Homo sapiens: one gene and its partners. The protein of the gene in region 7 interacts with the protein of the main gene of each other region in a biochemical or structural test. Each region holds a gene or a part of one and is shown on either strand. Other genes may lie near its edges.

Evidence for each region.
Region 1: of the proteins of AKT1 (region 7) and NEDD4, one has a biochemical effect on the other in vitro, tested with the Homo sapiens proteins (3 studies listed by BioGRID, with this or other methods).
Region 2: of the proteins of AKT1 (region 7) and FOXO3, one has a biochemical effect on the other in vitro, tested with the Homo sapiens proteins (2 studies listed by BioGRID and IntAct).
Region 3: of the proteins of AKT1 (region 7) and PPP2CA, one has a biochemical effect on the other in vitro, tested with the Homo sapiens proteins (6 studies listed by BioGRID and IntAct, with this or other methods).
Region 4: of the proteins of AKT1 (region 7) and EP300, one has a biochemical effect on the other in vitro, tested with the Homo sapiens proteins (3 studies listed by BioGRID, with this or other methods).
Region 5: of the proteins of AKT1 (region 7) and SMARCC1, one has a biochemical effect on the other in vitro, tested with the Homo sapiens proteins (2 studies listed by BioGRID, with this or other methods).
Region 6: of the proteins of AKT1 (region 7) and CREBBP, one has a biochemical effect on the other in vitro, tested with the Homo sapiens proteins (2 studies listed by BioGRID, with this or other methods).

Annotation. Positions count from the first base shown.
Region 1 is NC_000015.10:55,836,043-55,840,341, reverse strand, and holds part of NEDD4 (E3 ubiquitin-protein ligase NEDD4), read left to right. Parts: intron 1-1,737; coding exon 1,738-1,833; intron 1,834-2,161; coding exon 2,162-2,235; intron 2,236-2,492; coding exon 2,493-2,553; intron 2,554-4,299. UniProt on the Homo sapiens protein: E3 ubiquitin-protein ligase which accepts ubiquitin from an E2 ubiquitin-conjugating enzyme in the form of a thioester and then directly transfers the ubiquitin to targeted substrates. Specifically ubiquitinates 'Lys-63' in target proteins.
Region 2 is NC_000006.12:108,563,696-108,567,994, forward strand, and holds part of FOXO3 (forkhead box protein O3), read left to right. Parts: intron 1-3,476; exon of another isoform or gene 3,477-3,854; intron 3,855-4,299. UniProt on the Homo sapiens protein: Transcriptional activator that recognizes and binds to the DNA sequence 5'-[AG]TAAA[TC]A-3' and regulates different processes, such as apoptosis and autophagy.
Region 3 is NC_000005.10:134,205,128-134,209,426, reverse strand, and holds part of PPP2CA (serine/threonine-protein phosphatase 2A catalytic subunit alpha isoform), read left to right. Parts: intron 1-3,295; coding exon 3,296-3,505; intron 3,506-4,299. UniProt on the Homo sapiens protein: Catalytic subunit of protein phosphatase 2A (PP2A), a serine/threonine phosphatase involved in the regulation of a wide variety of enzymes, signal transduction pathways, and cellular events.
Region 4 is NC_000022.11:41,147,755-41,152,053, forward strand, and holds part of EP300 (histone acetyltransferase p300), read left to right. Parts: intron 1-82; coding exon 83-192; intron 193-1,283; coding exon 1,284-1,421; intron 1,422-2,006; coding exon 2,007-2,444; intron 2,445-4,078; coding exon 4,079-4,258; intron 4,259-4,299. UniProt on the Homo sapiens protein: Functions as a histone acetyltransferase and regulates transcription via chromatin remodeling. Acetylates all four core histones in nucleosomes. Histone acetylation gives an epigenetic tag for transcriptional activation.
Region 5 is NC_000003.12:47,771,700-47,775,998, reverse strand, and holds part of SMARCC1 (SWI/SNF complex subunit SMARCC1), read left to right. Parts: intron 1-3,062; coding exon 3,063-3,182; intron 3,183-4,299. UniProt on the Homo sapiens protein: Involved in transcriptional activation and repression of select genes by chromatin remodeling (alteration of DNA-nucleosome topology).
Region 6 is NC_000016.10:3,873,828-3,878,126, reverse strand, and holds part of CREBBP (CREB-binding protein), read left to right. Parts: intron 1-4,299. UniProt on the Homo sapiens protein: Acetylates histones, giving a specific tag for transcriptional activation. Mediates acetylation of histone H3 at 'Lys-18' and 'Lys-27' (H3K18ac and H3K27ac, respectively).
Region 7 is NC_000014.9:104,781,748-104,786,046, reverse strand, and holds part of AKT1 (RAC-alpha serine/threonine-protein kinase), read left to right. Parts: intron 1-4,299. UniProt on the Homo sapiens protein: AKT1 is one of 3 closely related serine/threonine-protein kinases (AKT1, AKT2 and AKT3) called the AKT kinase, and which regulate many processes including metabolism, proliferation, cell survival, growth and angiogenesis.

The DNA of each region.
Region 1 (4,299 bases), on a different chromosome or scaffold from region 7:
TTTCAAAATACAAATGAACTTTTTCCTCAACATTTTATTATGAAAATTTTCTAACATATAATAAAGTTGGAAGAATTTTACATTGGACAGTTGTATATCAACTACTCACAATTGCTTTTTTTCTAGATTTACTTTATCACATACCTATCTGTCTATCCATCAGTCTGTCTTAGTTTCTTCATGCATTTCAGAGTAAGTTATAGATAACATTAAACATCCCACTAAATACTTCAATAGGTTATACCAAGTTATATGTCTTTTGAATCAGTATTTGCATTATGATCTTTTATGATGAATGTTATATATATATATATATATATATATATATATATATATATATATTTTTTTTTTTTTTTTTTTTTTTTTTTGAGACAGAGTGTCACTCTGTTGCCAAGCTGGAGTGCAGTGGCGTGATCTTGGCTCACTGCAACCTCTGCTTTCCAAGTTCAAGCAATTCTCTGCCTCAGCCTCCTGTGTAGCTGGGACTACAGGCGCGCACCACCACACTCAGCTAATTTTTGTATATTTAGTAGAGACGGGGTTTCACCGTGTTCACCAGGATGGTCTCAGTCTTTTGACCTCGTTATCCGCCTGCCTCAGCGTCCCAAAGTGCTGGGATTACAGGCATGAGCCACCGCACCTGGCCAAATGGTGTATATTTTTTAAATGGCAGTCGAAAGGCAAAGCGTTATGGTTAGGTTCCTAGAAAAAAACAGAAGCCCAAGGATTAAACCCCGGACTGTAGCCGTGTTGTTTCCTGTGCTGCTGAATAGCCTCACACAATGTGTGTTCACATGAATTCCAGGGCATCTTCCTTAGTACCAAGTTCATTTTTTATTCTTTTCTTATTACATATTAACAGCACAAACAGTGTGATTCTTTATAAATCATAAGATTGCACAGTTACTTGAGTTGGTTCATTGAGCCTCTATATTTATTAAGAGATTTTTCTTTAACTCGGGCTGGGTATAAACAATGGCCTCCTCATAGCTACTTAAACATTTCACACTTAGTGCCGGACACAGGGGTGTGCAACTGTAATCCCAGCACTTTGGGAAGCTGAGGCAGGTGGATCACTTGAGGTCAGGAGTTTGAGACCAGCCTGGCCAACATGGTGATACTCTGTCTCTACAAAAAATACAAAAATTAGCCAGGCGTGGTGGTGCGCGCCTGTAGTCCCAGCTACTTGGGAGGCTGAGGTAGGAGGATCACTTGAGTCAAGGAGGTCGAGGCTGCAGTGAGCCACAGTCGCCCCACTGCACTCCAACCTAAGGGACAGAGCGAGACCCTGTCTCAAAAAAAAAAAAATTAAATTAAAAAATAAAAATAAAACATTTAACACGAAGTCACATAGGCATATGAGGAATGTGCTAAGTGCTCCTGGATATCCAGAGAAGTTAGGTTTTATCTGAAAACTTCTGTATTCATTCCTTTAACTGGATGATAAAATCTGTACCTCCACTGCTTCCACATAAACATAGATTCTAAACTTTTAAGTAGGCACCAATTGATTAATTGATTGATGCATTTTTACTCTTGCCCTTACCTGTCATCCATCTCTTTTTGTAATACACACACATACACACATACATTTTTGTTTATATATGTGTGTAAGTAAAGGATGTCCATCTGACCTCTCATCTTTTACCCAATTATTCAGACCCTCTACATACTGTTTTTTGCAATTTCAGGTGTGTTATAGATACAAATTTTAAATATGTAATTTTTCCCATCTAGGATAGTGAATATTACAATTCCCTAAGATGGATTCTTGAAAATGACCCAACAGAATTGGACCTCAGGTTTATCATAGATGAAGAACTTTTTGGACAGGTTTGTGAATTTTGATCAGTTAAAATGGCACATAAATTGTGAGACAAATGTTTAGATGTTAATACGTACACTTAATACATTCCTAGGCTCTGTTTTTACATTCATTTCCCAGTAACAAAAGCTGTCTCTGAGCAAGAATTTGTACTTTCTTTAACATTTGACTCGTTCCATATTTATTTTAGTAAAACTAGTATTTTAAGTTTTCTTAGTTTTTAACTTTTGACTGGACTTAATTTAAAACACCAAGTTTCTCGTATAACTACAATATGTATACTTTTTAAATTTTTCTCGCTAAAATAACATATCAAGTTATTGTGTTTAATTTTAGACACATCAACATGAGCTGAAAAATGGTGGATCAGAAATAGTTGTCACCAATAAGAACAAAAAGGAATATATTTAGTAAGTATTTTATTAGTATGTATTTTATTGGATATAATTTTGTACTTTATTCCAGAAAGACTCTTCTTACCATCTTTCTCTGTCCCCTTGTCCAGAATCTCAGTGTTCTTTTTCTCTATCACAATGCAGTAGCAAGCACTCATATTCAGCTTTTACCTTGGTCTCAGCTAGCCTTTAGTTTTTGTTTCTAACTAGAATAATTGTGCCTCAGAATTTTGTCTTGGTTCACATGAAAATGAAATGTTGTTTCTTTTTAGTCTTGTAATACAATGGCGATTTGTAAACCGAATCCAGAAGCAAATGGCTGCTTTTAAAGAGGTATTCATTTTCTTTTATTTGCTCTTCCATAATGTCACAGTATAACCTATAAGTTTCAAATATTAGGCCTCATCACATCTGAGAAAAATAAGTATATGGCTTGTTTTGTGAAATCATTCTAAATTATATTTTTATATTAACTAAATATTCCATTCAGTCATTCAAGAAGTCTAGACAATAAACATGGACAGGTCCCCTTTCCCCCAAGCCTTTTCCCTATTCCATTCTCTTCACTTTAGGACAGCAAAAGAACAAGAGTGCTTTAGGGATAGTATAACATATTGTTTGTTTTTCTAAATAGGATCACCTTACACATTTTGTTTTGTGACTTACTTTCTTCTTTTTTTTTTTTTTTTGAGCGCGGAGTGAGTCACTTTGTCGCCCAGGCTGGAATGCAGTGGCGTGATCTCGGCTCACTGCAACCTGCACCTCCCAGGTTCAAGCAATTCTCCTGCCTCAGCCTCCTGAGTAGCTGGGATTACAGGTGCCCGCCACCACGCCTGGCTAATTTTTGTATTTTTAGTAGAGACATGGTTTCACCATGTTGGTCGGGCTGGTCTCAAACTCCAGACCTCAAGTGATCCATCCACCTTGGCCTCCCAAAGTGCTGGGGTTACCAGTGTGAGCCACCGTGCTCGGCCTACTTTCTTCTTTTATCAGATATTTATTAGGGATATTTACATGTGACGACATATAGCTGCCTTTCTTTGTGGCTATATTTTATTCAGAATATAAATTAAAAAGTTACTTAAATTTTTCCAATTGGTAGACAGATTGTCAGAGCACTCATTTCTTAAGCTAACTTACAATCTTCTGTTAAATATGTATCTGGCTGGGCATGGTGGCTGACGCCTAAAATCCCAACACTTGAGGAGGCTGAGGCGGGAGGATTGCTTGAGCCCAGGAGTTCGAGACCAACGTGGACAACATAGGGAGACCTTATCTCTATAAAAAATTAAAAATTTGGGCGCGGTGGCTCATTCCTGTGATCCCAGCACTTTGGGAGTCCGAGGTGGGCAGATTGCCTGAGGTCAGGAGTTTGAGACTAGTCTGGCTAATGTGGTGAAACCCTGTCTCTACTAAAAATACAAAAAAATTAGCCGGACGTGGTGGCGTGCACGTGCAGTCCCAGCTACTCGGGAGGCTGAGGCAGGGGAATTGCTTGAACCTGAGAGGCAGAGGTTGCAGTGAGCCAAGATTACGCCACTGCACTCCATCCTGGGCAACAGAGCGAGACTCCGTCTCAAAAAAAAAATTAGCCTGGTGTCATGGCATGTGCATATGGTCACAGCTACTTGGGAGGCTGAGGCTGGAGGATCACTTGAGCCTGGGAAGTCGAGGCTACAGTCAGCTATGAGCTATGATGGCACTACTGCACTCCAGTCTGGGCTACAGAGTGAAACTTTGTCTCTAAAGTGTGTGTGTGTGTGTGTGTGTGTGTGTGTGTGTGTGTGTGTCACATACTTTTTCATAAATTCAGTATTGAGTACTATGTGTATGGTGCTGTACCAGGCCAAAAGACATAGGTCCTGTTATTAAGGTATGTATGATGTAAAGAGTGAAATGAACAGAGGCAAGCATAAAGTGCTAGGTGAGCACAGAAGAGAAGTACAAACCAGGGAGGGGCAAAGGAAGGGACAAAGAAGGACTAGAGGGATTGGCCAACCATGGAGAAGAGGGAAATGCAGTTCTAAGCAACAGGAGCAGCGTGTGTGAAGTCTGGCAATAAGGTAGGCTGTACCCACA
Region 2 (4,299 bases), on a different chromosome or scaffold from region 7:
CCTTTCCTGTGATTTTTAAGGTTACAAAAATAATTTAATTTCACAAATATTTCTTGTTATTTTGTTTATAGTTAAATATAATAAGTTTAATGAACTTTATTTTTGGGGGGAAGATTTACATGAGATAATGGTATTACCAAAAGTAGCCGCGAATTGAGATTGGGCTAGATACATTTTCATATAGTTTGTAGGACTTGCAATACAGATTTTGGGACTAGTCATAAACTTTATGGTTTTATGTCATCGTTTTTTTGTCTTATGGTTTTTTTTTTTTACCCTTCTCTGCTATCTCATTTCTCTTCAACTAAAATCTTAGAAAATACTGTAAATTGAAATTCTCAAGGCTTAATATGCTTAATACAGGGCACACATTTTATGATTCTTTTACCTTAAAATTTTTTACCAATTCCATTTCTGAGTGTCACATGACAACTAATCCTTGACGACTAAAGGGATATAATTTTGTTAGAGTTTTTATAAGATGATCTTCATCAAAAGATGCAGCCATGCAGGAACTTTCAAATCTTTGATGATGGAGAAGGCCCTTTGAAACTGGAGCTGGTTTTATATTTTGATTATGACTAATAGGCAACCTTTTTTTGTGTGTGCTTGTGGTTTAGTGGAAGAAGAGGGAAAAGGGAGAGATCAGGAGCTAATTGTGACCCATTTCCAAGTGTCCAAGTTTAGGAGTTGATTCTTGTCATGATTAGTCATTTTGGAAGCACGCATGTGCATTTAAACCACACTACTTTCATTCTGAGTAATGTAAGAGGATTTTTAACTTCCAAAAATGTCTAGAATTCAGGTTAACGTCTCCTAGTCATGTGTGCATAAAGGGCACGGTATGCAGGGCCTTACTTCTTTTCAGGCTATTTGGGCCATTGCATTATGAGACCTTGTAACCAAAATTATCACCCTAACATCATAAAATGAAAGAATTAGAAAAGAGGACTTAGAGATCAGAATCTAAATCAGTGGTTCTCAGCCCTGGTTGCATGTTTGAATTACCTGGGAACTTCTGAAAAATACAAATACCCAGAGAATTTGATATAATTTGGCTTGTGTGTGGCTTAGCATTGATGGTTTTGTGTTTTGTTTTTTTTTTTCAAGTTTCTTAGGTGATTCTAATGTATAGTTAGGATGAAGTTTTCTGATCTAGTTCAACCCTCTTATTTTACTGGTGAAAAACCTGATTTTTGGAAAAGCTAATGACTTTCTTAAGATCACACAGCTAGTTAGTAGAGAGGTAATTAGTAGCCACAGTTCTAGAGGTTTTTGTTTTCCATTTTCTTCTTTAAATTGATCTTTTTTAAAAGGTCATTTGCTAGGTAATGGATAGTCTCACATAAGTAGCGCTTGCTTTCCTGAAAGGCTTATTTGCCTCTCAATCTAAAAACATCTTGCTTATTATTTCAGCATCAAAAGGATGGGCAAATGTAGATGGAGGCTGAGTGAGTGTATCATGTTTGCATAGCTGTCCAGTGCCTGTCAGTAGGGGTACTTAGGAACTATGAAGTGATAAAAGAGGTAAGAAGGATAGCATTTTAACAAAAAGAGGAAGCCCTTGGTTACTTACATTTGTCAGATACTGTGTCAGGGAGAAGGATGATGACTATCTCACAGGTTCCCTTACCTCGGGCATTAAAGTAGAAATGAACAATCAGATGTGGTTAAGAGGGGAAAAGGTTACATTTCCTTTAATTCAGATTAAGCTTGCACTGCACCCATGATTGAACAAGTGAGTTCTCTCAGTTCCTCTTGTCTTGGGGAGACCTCTAAGGACGCCAGGGCTTACCTGGTAAGGCCTATCTATCACTTATTTCGTTATACACAGCACACATCTGCTTTTCCCATGGGTCAGGGTGTAATCAAATTAGGCAGACTTGAGTTTCTGTAGTGGTTCCCATAATTTCACAAGTGTGGGGGATACTGTGTTAAGATTTCTGCTGCTGCTGCTGCTGCAGAAGATAATTCTTCAAGAGTCCGAGTCTTCTTTCATGTAAGAATGTGTATTGTTATGGCTTCTTGCCAAGATAAAAAGATGAGGGCTGTCCTGTCACATAATGCTTATTTGTGTCCTCACTGTTTCTGTTCTTTAGATTAATACATCCAGTTCCTTTTCAACACACTGTATTAGGAAAATGTTATTTTAACTGCAACTCTGTTTTAAATTTTTTTTTAATTTGAAAATGACTAAGTCATAATCATTCCACATTGGCTCATAATTTTGACCTCAGTCACCTTTTGGAGTAACTCACCAAAAGGCCAGTTATGGTCGTGTGTGAAGAATCTGTCTGCTTGGCCCGTGTTGCCAAAATGTCGTTTTGTAATTTCCTTTGGCAATAGTGTCTTCGTCAGTGATTCTCAACTAATATACTTCCTCTTTCTACAGCCCCAGTACACTAGAGGGACTGTTTTTCCTCTTTTTCAAAGCTGTGTCATTGACCTCTGAAGTGAAGAAATTGGCCCTTTTAGACTTTGATCTGTGAGTCCCATGTAACAGAGACTCTTTAAAAAAGAAGCTAAGTGTGTGTTTTGATATGTTTATCTCCTTCTTAGAAAATGAAATGAAACTACAGCAGACTTATTTTTAGGAGATTTTAGGAGTGTTCTATTTTAAGAAAATGACACCATACAAGAACATCTTTTAGTTAAACTTCTTAGTACTCTGCTTGTGATTCTTACTTAAAACCTGCAAGATACTTTTATTTGGAAAATTAATGAAGAGGCCTTGTCTCACTAATAAGTCATTTAATTTGGTCTGGCAAAAGTTTACCATCCATTCAAAGATCTTCATGAAAATGCAAAGATAAGGCTGTTTAGGCTTGAGCCCAGGAGTTCAAGACCAGCTTGGGCACATAGCAAAACCCCATCTTATTTTTTTTTTAAAGACTGTTTAGGCCTGTGCATTCTGGCAGGTTGCCCCACTTACCCAGAGCAGGTGCATCAGATTCCAGATTCCCAGGGCTGGAGAGAATATGGAATTTATTTTGTTTGTATACCCACTTATTTTGCCTATAGGGACAGACTTGACCCTATTCTCAACTCCTCATTTCTCTCCTTTTCCTGCATCACAAATTGAGGGGTCCTGAAGAGCCACTTTACCTTTTTGGTGCTATAAAAGGAGCTGGGGATCATAAATGCAAAGACGAGTTGATATCAGTGGATGTTACAGCTGGTATACAGTAAGTGAATGAAAGATTGGAAAGAGAAAACCCTTTTTACCCATTTGCATCACATCCCATTTCATGTATTCAACAAATGTTTATCAAAGGCATGCTGCTTGCAGAGCATTTGCCAGGACTTAGGGATATAGTGGTAGCAGAAGGCAGATAAAGTTCCAGTTCACTCACAGGAGTTCATATTCTGATGGAGGAGACAGAAAATAAGCTATAGCATATCTGTGCTTTGTGAATTTGTCATTGCTGCCTATTCCCGTTGCCTTTTTTTTACATCTGTATTTCTGCTTTCTCTAGTACTTCAACTCTGCTAAGAAGTTGCTGGGAAGTGGCAAATTTGATGTGGGGCATGGCTTGGAGCTAGCCTTTAACTCTCTGCAGATCATTTTGAGCTTGCTTTGGAGATGCAAAACCACCGTACCATGGCTCCTGTGGATTGGGTCTGTTTGGGAGAAGCTTTGGTTTTCCAAGCTCCACCTGGATTAGATAGAGCACATCTTTGGCCCTGGACTGATCTGGGATCCCCAGTTCTGTCTCCCAGGGCCTGATGTAGATCTGGCCTTCCTCTGGAGTGGATGTGGAGCCTTGATGCCACTGACTCATCTGTATTACTTGTTGCCTAAAACTCAGAACTAAAAGAGATCTTAAAGATCATCTAACTACCTTATTTTGCAGGTGAGAAACATGCTAGGACTATGTGAGTGACTGGGTTCAGGGTTCCACAGCTAGTAGGGGTGGAGTAACGGGTGTGTCCAGTCAGTGCAGTGGTTCATGCCTATAATTTTAACACTTTGGGAGGCCAAGGCAGGAGGATTGCCTGAGGCCAGGAGTTTGAGACCAGCCTGGGCAACAAAGTGAGACCTCGTCTCTACCAGAAAAAAAGAAAACTAGGCCAGGTGCGGTGGCTCATGCCTGTAATCCCAGCACTTTGGGAGGCCCAGGTGGGTGGATCACCTGAGGTCAGGAGTTCGAGACCAGCCTTACCAACATGGTGAAACCCTGTCTCTACTAAAAGTACAAAAAGCTAGCCGGGCATCGTGGCGCATGCCTGTAATCCCAGCTACTAGGGAGGCTGAGGCAGGAGAATTGCTTGAACCTGGGAGGCGGAGGTTGCAGTGAG
Region 3 (4,299 bases), on a different chromosome or scaffold from region 7:
TTATTGTTGTAACTATCTGAGAGCTGGTAAGTTGAGACCAAAACAACAACAACAAAACAACCAAAATCATGCTTAAAACTGGTTCTTTCCAAGGTTGCATTTTTGTTAAGATCTACTTAATAGTTGATTGGATGATTTTTTTTTTTTCCCCCTCCGGTCTGAGGGATGGTTGCTTCTACTGTATACCACTGTTATCGCCAGTATTTAATTATATTTGTTCTGGTCTGTGAAGTTTGGTAGGAAGGGAAGAAAGAGCTCTGGTTGGCTTTTCTAGATTGACAAGTTAGAAATTTCACTTAAGAGTTAACTGTTCTTTTTATTTTAAAGGACAATTTGATAATGTCAACATTTAAAAACCAAACTACTAGATACACTAGTTAAGTTCACTTCATAGTATCTTCTCTCAGGAAATGTGCCTGCATATGTATACAGAGGAGAAAATACGAGGATATATATTGCTGTAGTTTCACACCCCTCTGCCATTGTAATTGGTCAGGGGAATACTCTGCCTCCACTATGAGAAAATAACCAGCTGTCTCAATAAATGTTATGTATTATTATATATTGTTAGAAAAGCAGGCTGCTGAACAATATTGTTTCTAGTTTAAAAATGCAAAGGAAAACTATTGTTTCTGTAGACATACAGTATGTGTGTAAACTTTGTAAACAAAGTTTTAAAGGATATACAGACACTCCCCAATTTTTCGACTTAATGATGGTGTGAAAATGATAGCTATTCAATATACCCCTCAGTTTATGATGGGACTACATCCAGATAAATATATCATAACTTGAAAACATTGTAAGCTGAAAACACACTGTTGACTCGATTATATTTACGATAGGATTATCTGGATGCAGCTGTGTTACAAATTGAGGAGCATCTGTACATCAAAATTTTATTGGTAACTTTGCCCAAAGGGGGTGGGATTGTGTAGGGTGCTCAAAGGGAACATTTCATTTTATCTGTGCCGAAATTTTTTACAAGAATGTATTACTAATTTGTATAGTTTAAAAAATAGATAACACTGTTTATCGGTGTGATTTGCCTAAATTGAAATAAAAGCAACAAATAGCATTTAGACTTAATTTTCCTTCATGATTTGAATAGAAAATTTGAGTCAGTTGTAGTAAGGAACTTCAGGCAGTCCTGAAAGTCAACTTTTTATTATTAATACAGAGAATAGCTTTGCAGATAAACAGATATTCACAGAAGTATATTAACATTTAACTTCTGATAGCTTTAAATGTGAAAATTACATCATGGCAAGATTTACATGGTATATAACCATCTGTTTGCTTATGTCATGCCCTTTTAAAACTTCTGAATAACTTTTGCAAGTTTCTTCTCAGTGTAGGACTTATTTCATTTAGTTATTTTCATTAATATATGATAGGTGTTAAAAAAACACTAGATGTGGTATTAATGCCAGACAGACTTGGTAATGGAATAAGCCTAGTGAATTTGTGTTTTTTAGTGATAGTAAATGGGAAGTTGGAATTACCCTGCAGAGAAAAATTTCAGAATGAAGTAGGATTTGATAATAATGGGTTGTACATATTTCTTAATAGGTATCTCAGGCCAGTATAGTGGCTAACGCCTGTAATTCAGCACTTTGGGAGGCAGAGGTGGGCAAATCATTTAAGCTCAGGAGTTTGAGGCCAGCCTGGACAACATGGTGAAACCTCACCTCTACAAAAAGTGCAAAATAGGCATAGTGGTGCACACCTGTGGTCGCAATTGTTCATGGAGACTGAGGCAGGAGGATCGTTTGAACCTGGGAGGTGGAGGTTATAGTGAGCCGAGATCATGCCACTGTACTCCAGGCTGGTCTGGAACTCCTGGGGTCAAGCCATCCACCCGCCTTAGCGTCCCAAAGTGCAGTGGTTCTTAAACTTGGTTGCACACTGGGAAAAGGAGGGGTGGGGGTGCTTAAAAATTATTGATGGCTTGATTCCAGTCTCCAAAATTCTGACTTTATTAGGGGAAGGAATGGGCATTGGTGTTTTTGTTTTTGTTTTGAGACAGAGTCTTGGTCTGTCACCCAGGCTGGAGTGCAGTGATGCGATCTTGGCTCACGGCAACCTCCACCTCCCAAGTTTAAGCAATTCTCCTGCCTCAGCCTCCCAAGTAGCTGGTACTACAGTCATGCACCACCATGCCTAGCTAGTTTTTTTTATTTTTAGTGGAGATGGGGTTTCGCCATGATGGCCAGGCTGGCCTCAAACTCCTGACCTCAAGTGATCGGCCCGCCTTGGCCTCCCAAAGTGCTGGGATTACAGGTGCGAGCCACCGCGCCTGGCTGGGCATTGGGATTTTTAATGTGCAGCTAAGATTGCATACCAATGCTTTGAACCCAGTCCTTGTCATCTGTGGTTGTCATGGCTCATTAGCAACAATTCTCTGGTAATTTGTTTTGGTATCTTATGTAAAGTGGTCTCTCCCAGTTTCCCTCTCCCTTTCCTTTGTGACACTTAACACAGTGTACTTTTGGCTTGGTTACTTGTTTGTGGTCCTTCTCCCCTCTACGGTAGTGGGAATGAGCCATCTTGTTCACCACTATATGTCCAGTTGCTAGCATGGGGCTGGTACAGATGGTTGAGCAAATGATTTTCTCACAGGTATGAGCCACAGTGCTTGGCCAAAAACATGTTTTTAAAAAGTCAAACAGGGCTGAGGTGAGGTGGCTTATGCATGTAATCCCAGCCCTTGGGAGGATGAGGGTGGAGGATCACGTGAGACCCCGTCTCTACAAAAAAGTTTGTGAAAATTAGCCAGCCATGGTGGCGTGTGCCTGTGGTCCCCACTACTGAGGTGGGAAGATTCCTGAGCCAAGAAGATCCAGGCTACAGTGAGCTATGATCATACTACTGCACTCCAGCCTGGGTGACAAAATGAGACCCTGTCTCAAAAAAAGAAAAAAAAAGAATCTTTGAGTGCTGCATTGTAGTTAGAACTCTGAAGGTAAGGAAGTAGATACCTGAATGTCCTGTTCGATTTTCATTGGTTTTATGTGACAGCTAACAATTAGTATTTAATTAGATGGCTATTTGATAGGTTTTTAAAAAACTCCTGGTATTGATGATAGGAATGCATATTTTTTCCCTAGGTAACAGGGTGAGATAGCTAATGGATTATAATCATATCTCACTTATTTTAATGGGTTCATAAATGCCTGCAATTTTATCTTAGACTGAGTCTGCCCCTTAAGCTACATTAAGTGTAAGTAAACAAATCTTTGTTAATATTGTTTAATGCCAAATGTATTGCCTTATTTTTGTCTCCCATCTGTAGGCTAAAGAAATCCTGACAAAAGAATCCAACGTGCAAGAGGTTCGATGTCCAGTTACTGTCTGTGGAGATGTGCATGGGCAATTTCATGATCTCATGGAACTGTTTAGAATTGGTGGCAAATCACCAGATACAAATTACTTGTTTATGGGAGATTATGTTGACAGAGGATATTATTCAGTTGAAACAGTTACACTGCTTGTAGCTCTTAAGGTAATTTCAATTTTATGTTGGGGCATGTTGAAATGGGTAAGACAGTCCTCTTGAAAGTTTTTTTTCCCCCAGTTATTTTCTCTATCTGAATGTTAAAACAAAATTCCACATTTAGGAATGCATATGTTCAGGTTTTGGACTTAAAAATCATAGGCGTCTGCGTTCTGAGTAAGGGGATGGTACAGAATCAAAACAAAAGGAGGAGAATGAATGCCTCAGTCAGATTGTTTGAAAAAATAGGCTGGGCGTGATGGCTTATGCCTGTAATCCCAGCACTTTGGGACGCTGAGGTAGGCAGATCACCTGAGGTCAGGAGTTCGAGACCAGCCTGGAGAACATGGTGAAGCCCCATCTCTACTAAAAGTACAAAAAACTAGCCGGGGGTGGTGGCGGGTGCCTGTAATCCCAGCTACTCTGGAGCCTGAGGCAGGAGAATTGCTTGAACCTGGGAGGCGGAGGTTGCAGTGAGCTGAGATTGCGCCACTACACGCCAGCCTGGACAACAGAGCGAGACTGTCTCAAAAAAAAAAAAAGGAAAAGAAAAATGTTAGAGGGCTGGTCAAATAGATATTTTAGTTCAGTAAATTGGGGTATGGAGAGGTAATATAATTAGATTTGTGTTTTTAGATACTTTTGAAGTATTATAAATATATAAACATACCAAATGTCAAAATGTTTTAAATCAGCTGGTCACGGTGGCTCGTGGCTATAATCCCAGCACTTTGGGAGGACAGGACAAAGTGAGCATATTGCTTGAGTCCAAGAGTTTGTGACCAGCCTGGGCAACATAGTGA
Region 4 (4,299 bases), on a different chromosome or scaffold from region 7:
CAGAATCAGACATAAGAATTCTATCTTTTATTATTCAATTTCACAAAGGCATTCAGATCTAACATTTTGCTCATATTCACAGGTTTGAATCAATTTGGCCAGATGAGCATGGCCCAGCCCCCTATTGTACCCCGGCAAACCCCTCCTCTTCAGCACCATGGACAGTTGGCTCAACCTGGAGCTCTCAACCCGGTTAGTTTGACGTCTTTGGTAATCTCTTTGGCCTTTACCTGGTATTTTGAAAATCCTGTTTGTTCCTACTTTATAAATTCTCACAGTCATTTAAACAGACCATAACTCCTAGTTCTTCTGTAATTCTTCTGTATTTAACTCTACTAGAAAGCTGACCAAAAAACGAAAACAGCCAGTCCCTTGTCCCTGGAGTGTCAGTGTTTAGTGGCCTGCATGCGTTTTCACGGTCACTTCTCTTCCCTGATGTCTGTCTTCCCTCCTCCAGGCAGAGAACTGTCTTGCAAGGTTGATGGTGCGTTTTTGCCTGGTTCTTGAACTCGGAGAAGAGAGACTAGGCTTCTCCTGCTCCTTATGCGAACTCTTAACCAGTCCATCTCTCTACCTTGACCCTAACCCTCCTGCTGCCCTTTAGAGTTAGCTGGTGCCTCTGATTCTTGACCCTTTTGGGGGTTCCTGAGCATTACTACTTCTCACTAATCTGCCATTTTCAACAGGGAGTTCTGTCCTTCATTTTAACCTATAAGACAGATGGTCTTAGCTTATGAAGTTTTTGGCCTTTGGTACTCGAGATTTCTTTCTTTAAGGCCTGAATTTGTGTAGGGTAATTTTGGAAATGACATGTAACAGTGCTAGAGCATTTGTGGACCATGAATGCTACCAGATTCTGCTACAACTTGTAAGATTTTCTTGTTTTTACATATTATGGGTCTTAGAATTTGTGTTATTACATCACTGACATGACCTCATGAAATTGTGATTAACTCTCCTCACTTAACAGAGCATGCAAAGAAAATTACCTGCTATCCTTGTGCTAGGCATATTTGTGTACCAAGAGAATGTGTGTTCCATCCTCTTACTATTTCTTGGAGTAGGCCTAGGTAAACTGTGAGGCTATTTCTCTTTATCTTGGCACAAGAGTCAGTTGTTCTACAACTTTCTTCCTTCTCCTCTTCAGCCCTCTTCACCTATACTCCTGTCTTTGGCTTTTCTCTACTTAATAAGCCTGACGTTAGGAGCATTTGATGATTTTAGTTATAGTAGAATAACTATAATGAAGCAGTTTGGTGATTTGTGTTTTTTTTTTTTTTCAGCCTATGGGCTATGGGCCTCGTATGCAACAGCCTTCCAACCAGGGCCAGTTCCTTCCTCAGACTCAGTTCCCATCACAGGGAATGAATGTAACAAATATCCCTTTGGCTCCGTCCAGCGGTCAAGCTCCAGTGTCTCAAGTATGTCTCATAAGTGGATTTTTCACTTATTTTTGATTCTTGAAACTTCTCTTGATGTAGGTTTTTATAGGAGAGAGTGGCAGCAAATAGTGGGTGAAAACAGATGATTTTTTAAAAAATAACAATTTTGGACTTAGGGTATTCTGAACATGAAGAGATTATTCTGTGACATAGCAATGGTGTTAATTGTTACAAAGTAGGAAATAATTTAAATGGATAGTTTTAATTGTTTTTACTAGTGAACACTTTAAAATAAATCTTAGAATTAAACACAATGTAGAAGGAAATCTGGCTGAAAAGAGCATAGGCAGGCCCTAGAGCACTCTGCACTCAATTCTGCCATTTTTCTGCGGTGGCTGAGGCCATTCTGCTGAATGGTTTGAAGTCTCTTTAGTTAAGTACTATCTTGATGGTGCTGTCCAAAGATACATGCCCAGTAATAGGGTATTTTACACATTTTGAAATAGACACATTGCTACTCTTTGTTTAATCAGTTTGTGTCCTAAATTTATATATCATGCCTATGTAAGTATTTCCTTAATTCTGTTCTGAATTGCTGTCTTGTTATGTTTTTTATTTTAACAGGCACAAATGTCTAGTTCTTCCTGCCCGGTGAACTCTCCTATAATGCCTCCAGGGTCTCAGGGGAGCCACATTCACTGTCCCCAGCTTCCTCAACCAGCTCTTCATCAGAATTCACCCTCGCCTGTACCTAGTCGTACCCCCACCCCTCACCATACTCCCCCAAGCATAGGGGCTCAGCAGCCACCAGCAACAACAATTCCAGCCCCTGTTCCTACACCTCCTGCCATGCCACCTGGGCCACAGTCCCAGGCTCTACATCCCCCTCCAAGGCAGACACCTACACCACCAACAACACAACTTCCCCAACAAGTGCAGCCTTCACTTCCTGCTGCACCTTCTGCTGACCAGCCCCAGCAGCAGCCTCGCTCACAGCAGAGCACAGCAGCGTCTGTTCCTACCCCAACAGCACCGCTGCTTCCTCCGCAGCCTGCAACTCCAGTAAGTAGAGATTTGGATTTAGGCAGAATCATTAGAGCTATACTGTAGTATTATATTACTTCTGGGCCATTTCCATTCTCTTTTGCTTTATCTCTTACTGTTTTCTCCACAAGTAGAATGTAATCTATTTTTCATTAGGGACTTTTGTATCCTGTTTTGCCTTCCTGTGATAGTACCTATCGTAGCAGGAGCATAAAGATTTTATTTAGCTCTGACTTTGACCATTATGTTTCATGTTGTACCCTGAGGTCTGAAGGTACGTAAAGGGGTACGACAAGGGGACACAATCCTTCTCCTTATTTAGTATATTATTTAGTGCAGCACATAAATTTTACATATATTTAAGGAATCTTTTTCAAACAGTTTGAGCCATAAAACCTAGAGATTGAATTTAAAAATTGCAGATTTGGACGGGCGCGGTGGTGTACACTTTTCATCCTAGCACTTTGGGAGGCTGTGGCAGGCAGATCACTTGAGGTCAGGAGTTCAAGACCAGCCTGGCCAACATGGTGAAACCCTGTCTCTACAAAAAAATAACAAAAATTAGCCAGACATGGTAGCGGGTGCCTGTAATCCCAGCTACTCGGGAGACTGAGGCAGGAGAATGGCTTGAACCTGGGAGGTGGAGGTTGCAGTGATCCGAGATTGCGCCACTGCACTCTAGCCTAGGCGACAGAGTGAAACTCCGTCTAAAAAAAAAAAAAAAAATTGCAGATTTATGAGTCCTTGTGGCCCAAACCAAAGTTTAAAAATAAGATGAGAGAATTATAGACCCAGAACAACCTGTAGCTTCCTTGTGAGAGGTTGGTTATGTATATAATAAAAATCCAAATTCTCATCTAATAGTTGAATCCTTATTAATAGAACTTTTTTTAAGGGTTTAGAAGCTTCTACTTTGATACCGATATTAATATATATCGGTATCCAATAGTTCTCAGCCATGTTGATGAACTGAGAAGTTCCATGAGTCACAGCCGTTTTATAAAGTACTGTACTTGACGGATGGCTGGTTCATCGTGGCCTCTGATAGACAAGGAAGGACAGAATGAGAGAGGAACCAGTGGATCTGCTTGATTTTATTCTTTATAAAATCAAGGATACTTCCAGAAAATACTGACTTCTCATTAAGAGATTTCTTATGACAAGCCTTAGGATAAAGATAGGGAATGCCAGTTTATCTCATTAGAATCTAGCGATTCAAAACAGCCACTCTCTGGGACATCATTATATTTATTGTCTCCTTTTCTGTACCTTTGAAACTTTCTCTGGTGAGAAGGTAAAAACAAGCCAGTCTTTCTTATTTTCTTTCACTCATTTCTGTATAAATGTGAGCTCCTCTGAAGCAGACATCTTTGAAATCCCCACACACTGCCAGATAATGATAGTTATCAATGAAATAGTTGCTGGTTCTTTGATGTACAATCAGCCAACCAGTATTTACAAGTCTTAATTCTCCTGTTCTTAAGCATAATTAAGGGAGGTGAAATGGGCAGAGCAAATGAAAGCACCATGAATAAATATAAGCCAAGAAATAGGTGGCTAATTCTGCTATCCTGTTGCTTACCTTACATTCTGATTGTATCGTTGGCAGACTCTGCGTGTGTCTCACCTACTTCCCTTTTTTTTCTGCCCAGCTTTCCCAGCCAGCTGTAAGCATTGAAGGACAGGTATCAAATCCTCCATCTACTAGTAGCACAGAAGTGAATTCTCAGGCCATTGCTGAGAAGCAGCCTTCCCAGGAAGTGAAGATGGAGGCCAAAATGGAAGTGGATCAACCAGAACCAGCAGATACTCAGCCGGAGGATATTTCAGAGGTGAGAGTAGGGCAATTACTGTTTGATTTGGTTAGGACCTC
Region 5 (4,299 bases), on a different chromosome or scaffold from region 7:
TTTTTGTATTTTTAGTAGAGACGGGGTTTCACTATGTTGGCCAGGCTGGTCTTGAACTCCTGACCTCAAGTGATCTGTCCACCTTGCCCTCCTAAAGTGCTGGGATTACAGGCATGAGTCACTGCATCCGGCCAGAGTTTTAATTTTTAATTTTTGTGGGTACATAGCAGGTCTATTTCAAAGTTTATTTTATTTTATATTTTTTGAGAGTGAGTCTCGCTCTGTCACCCAGGCTGGAGTGCACCCAGGCTGGAGTGCGGTGGCACGATCGCGATCTGGGTTCGCTACAGCCTGCGCCTCCTGGGTTCAAGCGATTCTCCTCCCTCAGCCGCCTGAGTAGCTGGGACTACAGGCAAGTGCCACCATGCACGGCTAGTTTTTGTATTTTTAGTAGAGACGGGGTTTCACTGCTTTAGTCAGGTTGGTCTTGATCTCCTGACCTCGTGATTCGCCCGCCTCGGCCTCCCAAAGTGCTGGGATTCCAGGTGTGAGCCACCACCGCGCCTGGCCCTTGAATACCGTTTATTAAAAATTTACGGGGCTGGGCGCGGTGGCTCACACCTGTAATCCCAGCACTTTGGGAGGCCGAGGCAGGCGAATCACGAGGTCAGGAGATCGAGACCATCCTGACTAACATGGTGAAACCCCGTCTCTACTAAAAATACAAAAAATTAGCCAGGCGTGGTGGTGGGCGCCTGTAGTCCCAGCTACTCGGGAGGCTGAGACAGGAGAATGTTGTGAACCTGGGGGGCAGAGCTTGCAGTGAGCCAAGATCGCACCACTGCACTCCAGCCTGGGCAACAGAGTGAGACTGTCTCAAAAAAAAAAAAAAAAGTACTATGTTGAGTATATTGGAGAAAAACTGACTTCAAATTTTCACTTGAAAGTATATGGGCCAGGTGCAGTACCTTATGCCTCTAATCCCAGTACTTTTTGGGAGGCCAAAGTGAGAGAATCACTTGAACCCAGGAGTTCTAGACTAGCCCAGAGAAGTTGGTGAAAACGGTTGTGTACAGAAAATTAAAAATCAGCCAGATGTGTTGGCACGCCTCTGTAGTCCTAGCTCTCTGGGAGGTGGAGGAGGAGGATCACTTGAGCCCAGGAGATTGAGGCTGCGGTGGCTGTCATTACACCACTGTATTCCATCCTGGGAGACAGCAAGAAACCACTGTCTTGAAAAAAAAAAGTATATGGTCCTTCAAAAACTAGGCTTGCTAGTTTTTGTTGCAAATTATCAATATAGTATAAGGAAGGGGAAAGTAGTATGTAGTTTTTAAAGTTTTTAAAATTGGCTGGGCACAGTACTGTAATCCCAGCACTTTGGGAGGCTGAGGCGGGTGGATCACGAGGTCAGGAGATCGAGACCATCCTGGCTAACATGGTGAAACCCCGTCTCTACTAAAAATACAAAAAATTAGCCGGGAATGGTGGTGGGTGCCTGTAGTCCCAGTTTATTGGGAGGCTGAGGCAGGAGAACGATGTGAACCCAGAAGGCAGAGCTTGCACTGAGCAGAGATTGCGCCACTGTGCTCCAGCCTGGGTGACAGAGCGAGACTCCAAAAACACACACACAAAAAAAGTTTTTAAAATTAATTATTTGAGACGGAGTCTGGCTCTGTCACCCAGGCTGGAGTGCATGGGGACAGGTGTGCGCCACCACACCCAGCTAATTTTTTGTATTTGTTTTTTAGTGGAGACGGGGTTTCGTCATTTCAGGCTAAGTGATGGAAGAAGACCCCATCTCAAAAAAAAAAAAAAAAAAGTAAATGATTGCCTTTTTATATGCTGTAAGTAAGTTTCAATGGTAGTAGCAGAAATTGTGTGCCCTTTGTCCTATGCATAATAATTGTAGACTTTGCAGTTGATGTAATTTTGACCATACACCACTCATCTAAAAAATATTTATTGTAATAGAGACATACCACATTAACCTTGAAATGTTGGATGGTAGTTCGAAAGTTAGCTCCGGCAAAAAAAAATAAAAAAATAAAAATTCTCTCGTCCAACTGAAAGGCAGGTATAGATGTTTTTCTTGCTTGGAATTGGAGGTTTAAAAATACTTTTTGAGGCTGAGTGTGGTGGCTCACGCCTGTAATCCTAGCGCTTTGGGTGGCCGAAGTGGGCGGATCATGAGGTCAGAAGTTAAAGACCAGCCTGGCCAACATAGTGAAACCCCGTCTCTACTAAAAATACAAACAAAATTAGCCGGGCATGGTGGTTGCGCGCCTGTAGTCCCAGCTGCTAGGGAGGCTGAGGGAGGAGAATCGCTTGAACTCTGGAGGCGGAGGTTGCAGTGAGCTGAGATGATGCCATTGCACTCCAACCTGGGTGAAAAACAAGACTCTGTCTCAAAAAAAAAGAAAAAAAATTTTTTGAGAGTATTGGCTACTCAAAGTGATATTGAACATGTAATTGCCAAATAAAACTTTTACATTTAACTCACTAATTTATTCTTTTCTTGTTGTGTTACCCATTATTTTTCCTTGCTGTGAAGCTTCCTAGCTGATGTGTCTACTACTGGTTTGGGCTTTTGACATTCTTTACATTAATATGGATAATATTTCACTTTTTTTTTTTTTTTTTGGTAAAAAACACAGGAGATTTATCTTTGTGAGGTCGAGGCAGGGGCAGGTCACATGAGGTCAGGAGTTTGAGGCTAGCCTATCCAATGTGGTGAAACCCCGTCTCTACTAAAAATACAAAAGTAGTTGGGGGTAGTGGCTCATACCTGTAATCCCAGCTACTCTGGAGACTGAGGCAGGAGAATGACTTGAACCCGGGAGGCAGAGGTTGCAGTGAGCCGAGATTGCACCGCTGCACTCCAGCCTGGGTGACAAGACCGAAGCTCCGTCTCAAAGAAAAGAAAAAAAAAATTAACCGTCTTAACCATTTTTAAATGCACACACATATTTGTTTTTGTAAGCTCCTTTATAGCACAGAGCGTGTCTCAGACATCTATAAATTTCCCATAACGTAAGTACTTAGTAGGTACTAGGAAGTAAGCCAACATTTTCTCCTGCAAAAATTGTACTAGTTTTTGAATGCCTGTCTTTATCTTGCAGTATGTTCATGCGGATGCTCCTACCAATAAAACACTGGCTGGGCTGGTGGTGCAGCTTCTTCAGTTCCAGGAAGATGCCTTTGGGAAGCATGTCACCAACCCGGCCTTCACCAAACTCCCTGTAAGTACATCAGCTTACTGTTATTTGGGCATCCTCAGTTGCTGTATACTTTTAGGTGTAGCATCCAGCTTTTTTCCTTTGCTGCTGCTAGCGTGTAGAATTTAAAAAAAAAAAGCAAAAAACAAATTTTAGTTATAGAATATTACTATTTTTTAACTGTAGGAAGCTGCTTTTTGAAGAGGCATTTAACATTTGCATTAAATATTGCAGCAGTCATTGTGAAGACCTAACAATATTTTACTATGTTGCAGTTCCCTATCCTCTCGCCGTACCGAGTCTTCTCCATGCTTTCTCCTGATGCAGCTCTTATGCCATAAATAGAATTTATGGAATTTTTTATATTTTGTAGGTGAGATACCTTCTGAAGTTGTGTGAGAATATAATTTTGGTGTCCTTGCAATTGTGTGTTTTATTTTTGTTTTTACAGACAGGATCTTGTTCTGTTGCCCAGGCTGGAGTGCAGTGGTTTGATCACAGCGCACTGCAGCCTTGATCTCCCGGCTCTAGCCATCTTCCCACCTCAGGTTCCCAAGAGGCTGGGACTACTAGCATGTGCTACCACGCGCATATGGGTGACTTTTAAATTTCTGTAGTGATGGGATCTTGCTGTGTTGCCCAGGCTGGTCTCAAATTTTTGGCGGGAAGGCGATCCTTCTGCATTGGCCTCTGAAAGCTCTTTGATTACTGGTGCGAGCCACCACACCAGCCCTTCTCTGCTATCTTTATTTTATTTAATTAATTTATTTATGAGACAGAGTCTCGCTCTGTCACCCAGGCTAGAGTGCAGTGGTGTGATTTCGGCTCACTGCAACCTGCAGCGATTCTTGTGCCTCAAGACTCCCGAATAGCTAGGATTACAGGTGCGCGCCACCACACCCAGCTAATTTTTGTATTTTTAGTAGACACATGGTTTCACCATGTTGGCCAGGCTGGTCTTGAACTCGCAGCCTCAAGTGATCCACCCACCTCGGCCTCCCAAAGTGCCGGGAGTACAGGTGTGAGCCACCACACCCAGCCTTTATTTTTATGTTATGATATGTTATGTTATGTTATATTATATCATGTTATTTTTTGAGATACAGTCTTGTTCTGTCGCCCAGGCTGGAGTGCAGTGGAG
Region 6 (4,299 bases), on a different chromosome or scaffold from region 7:
AATTTGTTGTAGATTTTGTCTTAAAAAGGGGGACAATTAGTAACACAAGACTTAACAAAAAGGCATGTCCTTATATGTACATCCAGCTGTTTCCAAGATGGAGCCCAAAGGTTAGCTTTTTCCATAGTAGTGTCCATTATTGGATGATCAGATGCTTAATAAGTTGATCAGAAAGGATTTTCCACACTTAACCACCTTTTCCCCCTTCCTTTACAATTTTGATCCTTGTAAGGCACAGGGGCTCTTTCGTGGGACCAAAAGTCAGCTTTAAATGGCTCCGATTTAATCCAAAGTAGAAAGTCAACATCATACTTAAGTTGGGTCATGTGTTACACATTCATCACCATCACACTATTGTGAAAGGGTCTGTTAGTATGGGGGACCAAGGAAGGGCTCATTATCAAGCACATTAAACAAGGGGCTGCTGGGCGCCATGGCTCATGCCTGTAATCCCAGCACTTTGGGAGGCGGAGGCTGGTGGATCAACTTCAGGTCAGGAGTTCAAGACCAGCCTGGCCAACATGGGGAAACCCCATCTGTACTCAAAATACAAAAACATAGCCAGGCATGGTGACATGCACCTGTAATTCCAGCTACTTGAGAGGCTGAGGCATGACAATTGCTTGAACTCGGGAGGCAGAGGTTGCAGTGAGCCAAGATCGCGCCACTGCACTCCAGCCTGGGTAATGGAGTGAGACGCTGTCTCCAAAAGAAACGAGGGACACTTTGTCTGTTGTAACTGCTCCACTAAGAAATTGAGTAATGAGATGGACAGAGATCTTAGGGATGTATTTTAAACAAATAAATGGCTTGAGTTTTTACATTAAATACATTCAAAAACTGAAGGCATTTGGTTAGGTGGGACAGACCTGAGAATAACATTCTTGAGGAACTCAATCTTATTTTAGTGACGGGATGTGTCTCTGAGGCTCCCAGGGGAAAATTGGGCCTAGTGGAGCAGGGTGTGTGCCCGGTGCATGTGATCAAATTTGAGGGAGGGGACCTCTGTCTAGGAGCTGAGGGGTTGAAAGGAGGAGGAGCCCTTGGCAGCCTGAGAAACAGGATCTACTTGGACTGCAGTGCATGTCTGTAGAGACTGGCCTGTGGGGCCACCAGTGTCACTTAGATGTGTCTGTGAAGGGTGGCAGTGAGCTGAGAGAAAAATGCACCCGACATTGGGGAGCTGCTCAGCCAGGGTGCTGCTCATCTGGGGGCATGGATGTTGCAAACAGCACTCCCGAAGGTCATGCAGCACCTCAGAGTGATGAATGTCACTGCCACTGATGACAAACAAGTTGCCGAAGCCTGGGAAGCTTATGCAGAGATGATGCAGAAATACGGAATGTGCTGCGAATGAGGGTAGCAAGAGAGAAACGGTACCTTTCACCCCACTGAAGCAGCAGCCCTGGAGAGGCACAGAATTTGATGGCCTCAGATGTTAAAGTAGCATTTTCTTGTATTATGTAGAAGCCTTTACACTTTCTCATACATGAGGTCTTCCTTTACTTGGCACCCTTACAATAAGTGGGGACTTTATATTACCGGTATATAGTTAGTTGGGTGTTTTGGAAACTTCTTTATTTAATATGTCCAAGTTAAAATAGCATATTGTGTCTTTCAACATCAGAGATTCATGATTTAACAGTATAAGACAAATATCCAGGCAAGCAGTAGACTTTTGTTTTTTGTTTTCTGGGTTGTTTTTTTTTTTTTTTTTTTTTTTTTTTGGTCAGCTTTATTGCAAAATTTGCACACAACAGACTGTTTATAAAGTTTTTTGAAATTGCAGGCCAGGGTGGTGGCTCATGCCTATAATCCCAGTGCTTAGGGAGACTGAGACAGGAGGATTGCTTGAGGCCAGCAGTTGGAGACCAGCCTGGACAACATAGTGAGACCCCATCTAAACAAAAAATTTTTTTAATTAGTTGGGTGTAATAGTACAATCCTGTAATCCCAGCTATTCAGGAGGCTGTGGCAGGAGGATCGCTTGAGCCCAGGAGGTCGAGGCTGCAGTGAGCTGTGATCATGCCACTGCACTCTGGCCTGGGTGACAGAGTGAGACCCTGTCTCTGGGGGAAAAAGGAAAAGAAAAACTACATTCTGAAGATTGAACATAGCTGTGTTTCATCCTGTGCTGTATAAGTGGCTCTAAGCAGTTGTGATTACATTTTATGACGTGAATCCTTTTAAATGCAATAGGGAAGCTTATTTAAAGAAAGCTGGTGGCGAATATGGTTGTCAACCAAATGGTCTGTTATGTATGTCTGGTACTTTATGTATCAGAGTGCTTTTCTCCACGTCACCTCAGTTTGATCCTTACAGCGTCCTGTGAGGAAGGGAAGATGCTGTTACTGCTATTTTCTAGGTGAGGAACTGGACTTGAGAGGTGATACAGGGTCAAAACCAGATCCAAACTAGATTGTTAAAGTCCGTAGCTCTATATATTTATTTTCTAAGTCTCTATCTGTAAACAATGCATTTACTTGAATCGACCCAGGAACCTGCCAAGCTTAGTGAGTTTCAGTAGCGGCCTTCCCGCACATGAATGAGATCACTAAGGGGGAGGTTTGTAACCACCTGTGGTGGGGGCAGCCAGGAGTGTATTCTTCCTCCTGGGTTAGGGCGTCCCCCTTTTCCCTCTGGTTCTGGTGTTATCCTCAGCGTGACGTGTGTGGGCTCGTGTTCCTGTTTACCTCAGGGAGAATGAGAAACGGTTATGTTACCCCATCAGTGAGTTCTGGCTAAGTAGGAATAAAAGTTGTCATAGAGACTTTTAGGACTAGGACATTTCATGACCGTGCTTCGTTTTTGAATAACTGAGAGGGGTGAGAGCGGTGGCCCCATTCAAAGGTCGTCAGGGATGAAGGTAGGCAAGGACAAGTCATGTGCAGGGCGCCTTAGAGGGCCTTCAGAAGATGGAAAGTCGCTCCTGGCTGAACATTCAGATTTGATTCTGTAAACAGAATTGAACATAACTTACAAAGAGACTGAGTCCTGCAGTTGGAAGTTGATGCTTAGATTAGTCGCCTGTGTTTTCACAGCTTCTAAGTAGTGTGTTGTAATTGTGTGGCAAAGTATGTGATTACCTGGGGGGTCCATAATTGCTGACTTGTGTTTTTACTTGATGTATTTGAAAACAGTTAGGAAAATGATTTTGCCAAAGTGTGTCTTACCTTAGTTAAGATGAAATGTACCTTATTGTGAGTTTCTGAAGATTGCAAAAGCTTGTCAGTTTAGTTTTTGGGGTCCCATTAGTGAGGGCACCCCTCTTTACCTTACTCAAACCAGCTCTTCACATGTATTCCAAGAAACTAGAGGGCATGCTAAGAGGTATTTCTCAACAAATGGTTTGTGCTCAGATGCTGTTGCTTGTAGCTGAGGAATTTGACTGCAGACTTTCCCAGAGCCTTGGTGTCCTGATTGGGCACTGTGAGAGAGGGGCTACAGTTGGACCACTCTCAATCCTGTTTGACGCTAGAACTCTTTTTAGCCTATTATGGGTCCGCAGACTTCCTCTGCAAAGGGCCAGAGAGCACGCATTTGGCTTTCTGAGCCATATGGTCTCTTGTTGCAACTACTCAAGGCTGCCATTTCAGCAAGAAAGTAGCCATAGGCGAGTGGGCCTGGCTGTGTTCCAGTAAAACTCTAGTTGTAAAGACTGGCATCTGAGGACTTCGCCCATGGGCTGCAATTTGGTGACTGATATAACGTGGGACTTCATTCTCTGAGCACCCGTTGGGGAGCACTGGCCTACCACGGCTGCACAGACAGCTTTAAGGAAAACAGCAGCAGGGCAAGTTTTCTGAGCTGCATGATGTGGAGCCCGGGAGAGCCCAGGTGAGCAGCAGGCTAGCTTGGGTCTCCTGTCTTGGAGCACTTCAGAGCTTAGCAGGGCCCTCTCTCTCTGTCTTTTTTGTTCCTCTGTAACAGTTATATGGATGACTTGATTTAAAATCAGACGAATTTATCAGAAAGCCTGGTGACCGGTTGCATTTTTCTTTGTTCTTTTGCTTTTTGTTGACCCCAGTGGCCCACATGGCATTTCTCGTCCGTCTTTGTCATCTCAGGCTCTAGGCTTGCTCCCCTTCCTGTGACACCAGAAGGTGAGCGTCAGTAAGAACTCCAGAGCCTTTCCACGGCCCTCTTCCCAGCACTTCCCTCCCCAGGGGCAGTGCCTGACACATAGTAGGCCCTCAGGAAATATTTGAGGGAATTAGTGAAAGAATTATATAGTATTTGTCCCTTAAAGTTCTTATCATTTTCTTGTTAAGGTTTTACTTTCAAGCAGATTGCCACCTA
Region 7 (4,299 bases):
TGTGTGGCAGGTGGGGTGCCTTTGCCGGCCCGAGGGGTGGGTGACGGGCAGTGCCTGTGGGGGAGGACATCCAGGCCCAGGTGGTCTGTCAGGGGCAGCACCAGGGAGGCCCAGTACCCCACCCAGTAGAGCCCCAGGAGAATGGAAAGCTGAGACCCAGGTGCTTCCCTGGAGTGGCAGGAAGAGAGGCCCCAGCGCCTCCGGCTGTGCCTCAGCGAGGTGGACGGGGTCATGGTGGTGCCGCCTGCCCGCACCATGTTCCTCCCGGGGTGTGTGTGTCGGGCTGAGGCCTGCTCCATGGTGGAGCGGAAGGAGGTGAAGAATTTGCAGTTTGTGTCAAGTTACAACCCCTGCCTTGGCGGCAGGACCTGGGGTCTCTCTGGTCATGATCTGCCTCTGAGGGTCACCTCCCCTAAGTCTCCGTTTTCCCAGGGAGCTGATGGGCATGATGAGCCCTGCCCGCCCTGCCTGCCTGGTGGGCTTTCTGGGAGAGCAGAATGGGTCCTGGGCTGGGCGAGGCCCAGGCAGGTGGAGCGCCAGTCCTCTGCCTGGCGGGAACAGACACCTCTCCTTGTGCAGACTGGCCACTTGTGCCCCCTCAGAAGGGCTTGTGCCGGGAGGAGCAGTGGATGTATTTCACCCACAGACCTGGGGGCTCCAGCCAAGTGGGGTCAGCTGGCCTCCGTTGTGTGGCCCCTCCCCTGCCCCCACCCCAGCCTGGTTGTTTACAGGGTTCGAGGGCTGCTGGTAAAGGGGTGTGTACTCCCGGGCCCGGGCAGAGGCCTGGCAGGCCGGGCCCTTCGCGGTGAGCTGTGCGGTCTCCTGGCAGGCGGGGAGGGTGGGTTGCGGGCCCCTCATGGGCTGCCGTCAGCGGAGCCGTCTGCTCAATGTGCTGGAGAAGGTAAATGGGCCCCCGGCAGCTGTCGGGGCGATGGATGTGTCGGCAGTGGGGACCACGGTGGCCGCTGTCAGCTGGCGCCCGCTCCCAGGGCCTGCTGGGCTCACTTTGCTGTGGAGAAGCAGCTCGGTGCCGCCTGGCACCCTGCCAGCCGCTGCCACCACCGTCTCTGCGAAGTGTTTATCCAGCAGTTTCCTGAGAACTGGGGACTTTGAGAGAATGTTCAGGGAGCTGAGGACGTGGTGGCCTAGGGGGGCTGACACACCTGGTGGCTCAGGAGGTGGTCAGTCCCGGGACGTGGAGGGCCACCAGCTGGCCCTCAGGGGCCCACCCAGTCCTGCCCATGGCGCGTGGGTCCTGGCCCCCATGTCTAAGTGGGTGCCGCTTTGGGGGGCCTGACCCACAGTGTGGCCTGGGACACGTGTGTGAGGCGTGGAGAGGGTGGGCTGCCTGTGACTGTCCATGTGGTCCCCGTGGTGGTGGTGGGGTGGGTTGGGGGAGGCCAGGCAGGAGCAGCTTCCTCTCAGAACCCCGGTATTTGGTCCAGGAGGACTTCTGGGAAGGAACCCTCTTTCCCTGGGGGTGCTCCAGCCCCTTCCTGGGGATGAGCGGGGTTGGGGATGGAAGGTCACTCCTGCCGGAGGGCCACCCGGGACATCGGGATGCCAGAGGGACCAGGGCTGGGGTTGTGTGGGGCCCAGGAGGTGCAGGAGGAGTCGAGGGAGCCTGGTCTCCGCTGTCCCCCCGGGCAGGGACAGGAGTCTGGCCAACTGCCTACCCCCCACCGAGGGCAGCCACCTCCCATGCCTGGAGCCCTGGGCCATGGATGTGCTGGCTGGTGGGGAGGGTTACGGGTTTCATCAGGCACAGGAGCCCCTGCCCTTGTGGCTTCACAGGACCTGGTCTTGGATAGGTGCAGTGTCACAGGGTTAAGGGTCAGGGTGGCTCCCACCTGGCCCAGGGCTGGCCTTGAGAGAACCCTGAAGGGTGGGACCGGAGCTGCTGCCTCCCACTGCCCAGGGGGCCAGCAGGAGGGTGAGACTGGAACTGCTGCTTCCCCGCTGCCGAGGGAACCGGCCATGGGGCAGGAGGGTGGGACCGGAGCTGCTGCTTCCCCCTTGCCCAGGGGACCAGCCATGGGGCAGGAAGGTGGGACCAGTCCCCAGTGCCGTCCTCCACTCGGCCCCCCACTCAGGTCTTCTGGCAGTGGTGTGGGGTCCCCCATCCGGACTTGCTGACATTTCTGAAGGGGCACCTAGCCGTCTTCCCTGCCAGACCCTGAGGCCCAGGCCGGGGTTGCACTGGGACCCTGCCTGCTCCAGGTCCCGGGTCTGAAACATGTGCAGCGGGTGGGGACTTGGGGGTTCTTGAGCCCAGCATGGGGGTGTGAGAGTTAGGGACTGAAGAGGCCCCCTGGGCCTGAATGCTGGGCGGTCTCCATTGCCCTTGGGAGTGGCTGCTGGCAGGAGATGACTCTGGCTGTGTGTGGGGTGGGGCGTGCCCTGGCCTCCCCATTTGTTGCCTGCCTGTACCCGTCTGGAGTGAGGGCCTGGCGTGGCAACCTGGGGGTCTGTGCCCACTCTGTGTTTGGTGCCCTCAGCTGTGCAGGCAGGTGGGTGGGGTGGTGTTGGGGGGGTGACTGGGGTGGGGTGGGGGGATGCCAGCTGGCTGATGGTGGGGAGATGGAAGGCCCCTCTGTGGCGGGTGCTTCCCATGGTCGGTGTGGAGGACGAGGTCCCTACTGCCTGGTTCCAGTTCCCCCAGCAATGCAGGGCACTTTTCCTGGGGTGTCAGGGATTGAGAGGCCACTCTTCAAGTGGACTGTACTCCTGCCTCGAGTGGGGGGCATCTGAGGACCACAACAGGGTGGGGAACTCAAGTTAAGTCCTGGATGACAGGTTCCAGTTCCCCTGGGGACCCTCAGGATAGTGAAGGAGAAGACTCCATGTGGGTTGGTCTCTTTGTGTGAGGGGTCTGGGAGGGCAGCCCTGGCTGATGTGTCTGTGCTCCCACCCTCCTGAGGGACCCGGAGTAGGCAGGTGCAGGCCTGCAGGCGTCCTGTGGCCATGAGGACAGTGATGCTGGGCCCCGGGTGGCTGTCTCCTCCACCTGCCCCGTCCTGTGTCACCCCAGTCCTGGATCAGGGAGTAGTGGGGCCCTGCCGCATCTGCTGTCGGGGCTGGCCGCCCACCCAGCATCCTGTCTGGGCTGAACTCGTTAAGATGCGCGCCACGGCCCTGGCTGCAGCTGGCACCCCCCCAAGTGATCCTCTAGCTGACCCTCTAGGCGAGAGATGAAGAAAGAGAACTGTGTGTCTCTGGACCCCTTACCCCGGGTCCCTGGGGATCCTGCTCCTCCCCTGGAGGGGTCTGTGTGCTGGGCTGGGATGCCGAAGACAAAGGCCACGTGAGGCCCCTTCACTCACACCCGTCTCCTGGGGTAGGCCCTGATCGCCGTCTGTTCCCTGGGTCTGTGGGGCCAGGCGAGGGGAAGGCACTGAAAGCCCAGGGCCCATTTGGGCCTCTGCCCATCCCAGGACTCCCCAGGAATGCTCGGGGCTGGGCACCTGTCCTCTCCCACCCCCCACGCCTGGTAAGCGCCGCCCCTGGGCCTGCCCCTCCCGCACCCCCAGATCCAGCTCCCAGAACCCCCCAGATGCAGCTCACAGAACCTGGGGCTGGGCTTGTGGCAGCAGGGTCAGGGGCAAGGCTGGGGTTGGGCACGGGAGCTGCGTGCTCGGGGGCAGCACGGGGCCATGCTGGGCACGGTGGGGGCTGGCAGCAGTTGGTGGATAAGATGGGTTTCAGGGGTGCCGGGCCTGGGCGCTCATCAGTCTTCCCGCTCAGTTAGCGTCCCGGGGAGTGGCAGCTGGCAGGATGGGAGGCACTCCATCAGGGGCCGACAGCTCCAGACTGGCATGCAGGCGGGTGGGCGTGAGCAGCGGGGTGGCCCAGGATGGGGGACGGGTGGGGTGGGCTGCATGCAGCCCCCTGAGCCTGCTCTGCTCTCACTGAGCGCCCCTGCCTGCCCGCTGCACCTGCAGGGGCCCTGTGGCTGGGGGAGGGGACGTGGGAGGCGGGGTGGAGCTGCGTGGCACGTATGTGCGTGTATGTGCACACTCGGGGGTGTGCGAGATCCCAGGTCAGGGACAGGAGCCGGCACCCAAGGGTGGCAGGACCACGCCTGCTCGGCAGCCCACTGGCAGGGGCATGGAGGGCTTGCGGAGTGGGTGGGGTCTCCTGATGAGTGCTCTTGGGCACAGGGGCAGATTCTGGGCCCTGGATCATCCTCCCTGCAACTGGGTGTTGGCCGTCCTCCAGAGGTGTCAGGCAGCTATGAGTGGGCTGTGGCTGTCCCCTTCCTGGTCCACCCCAGACCTGACAACAGCCTCTTCCCACACT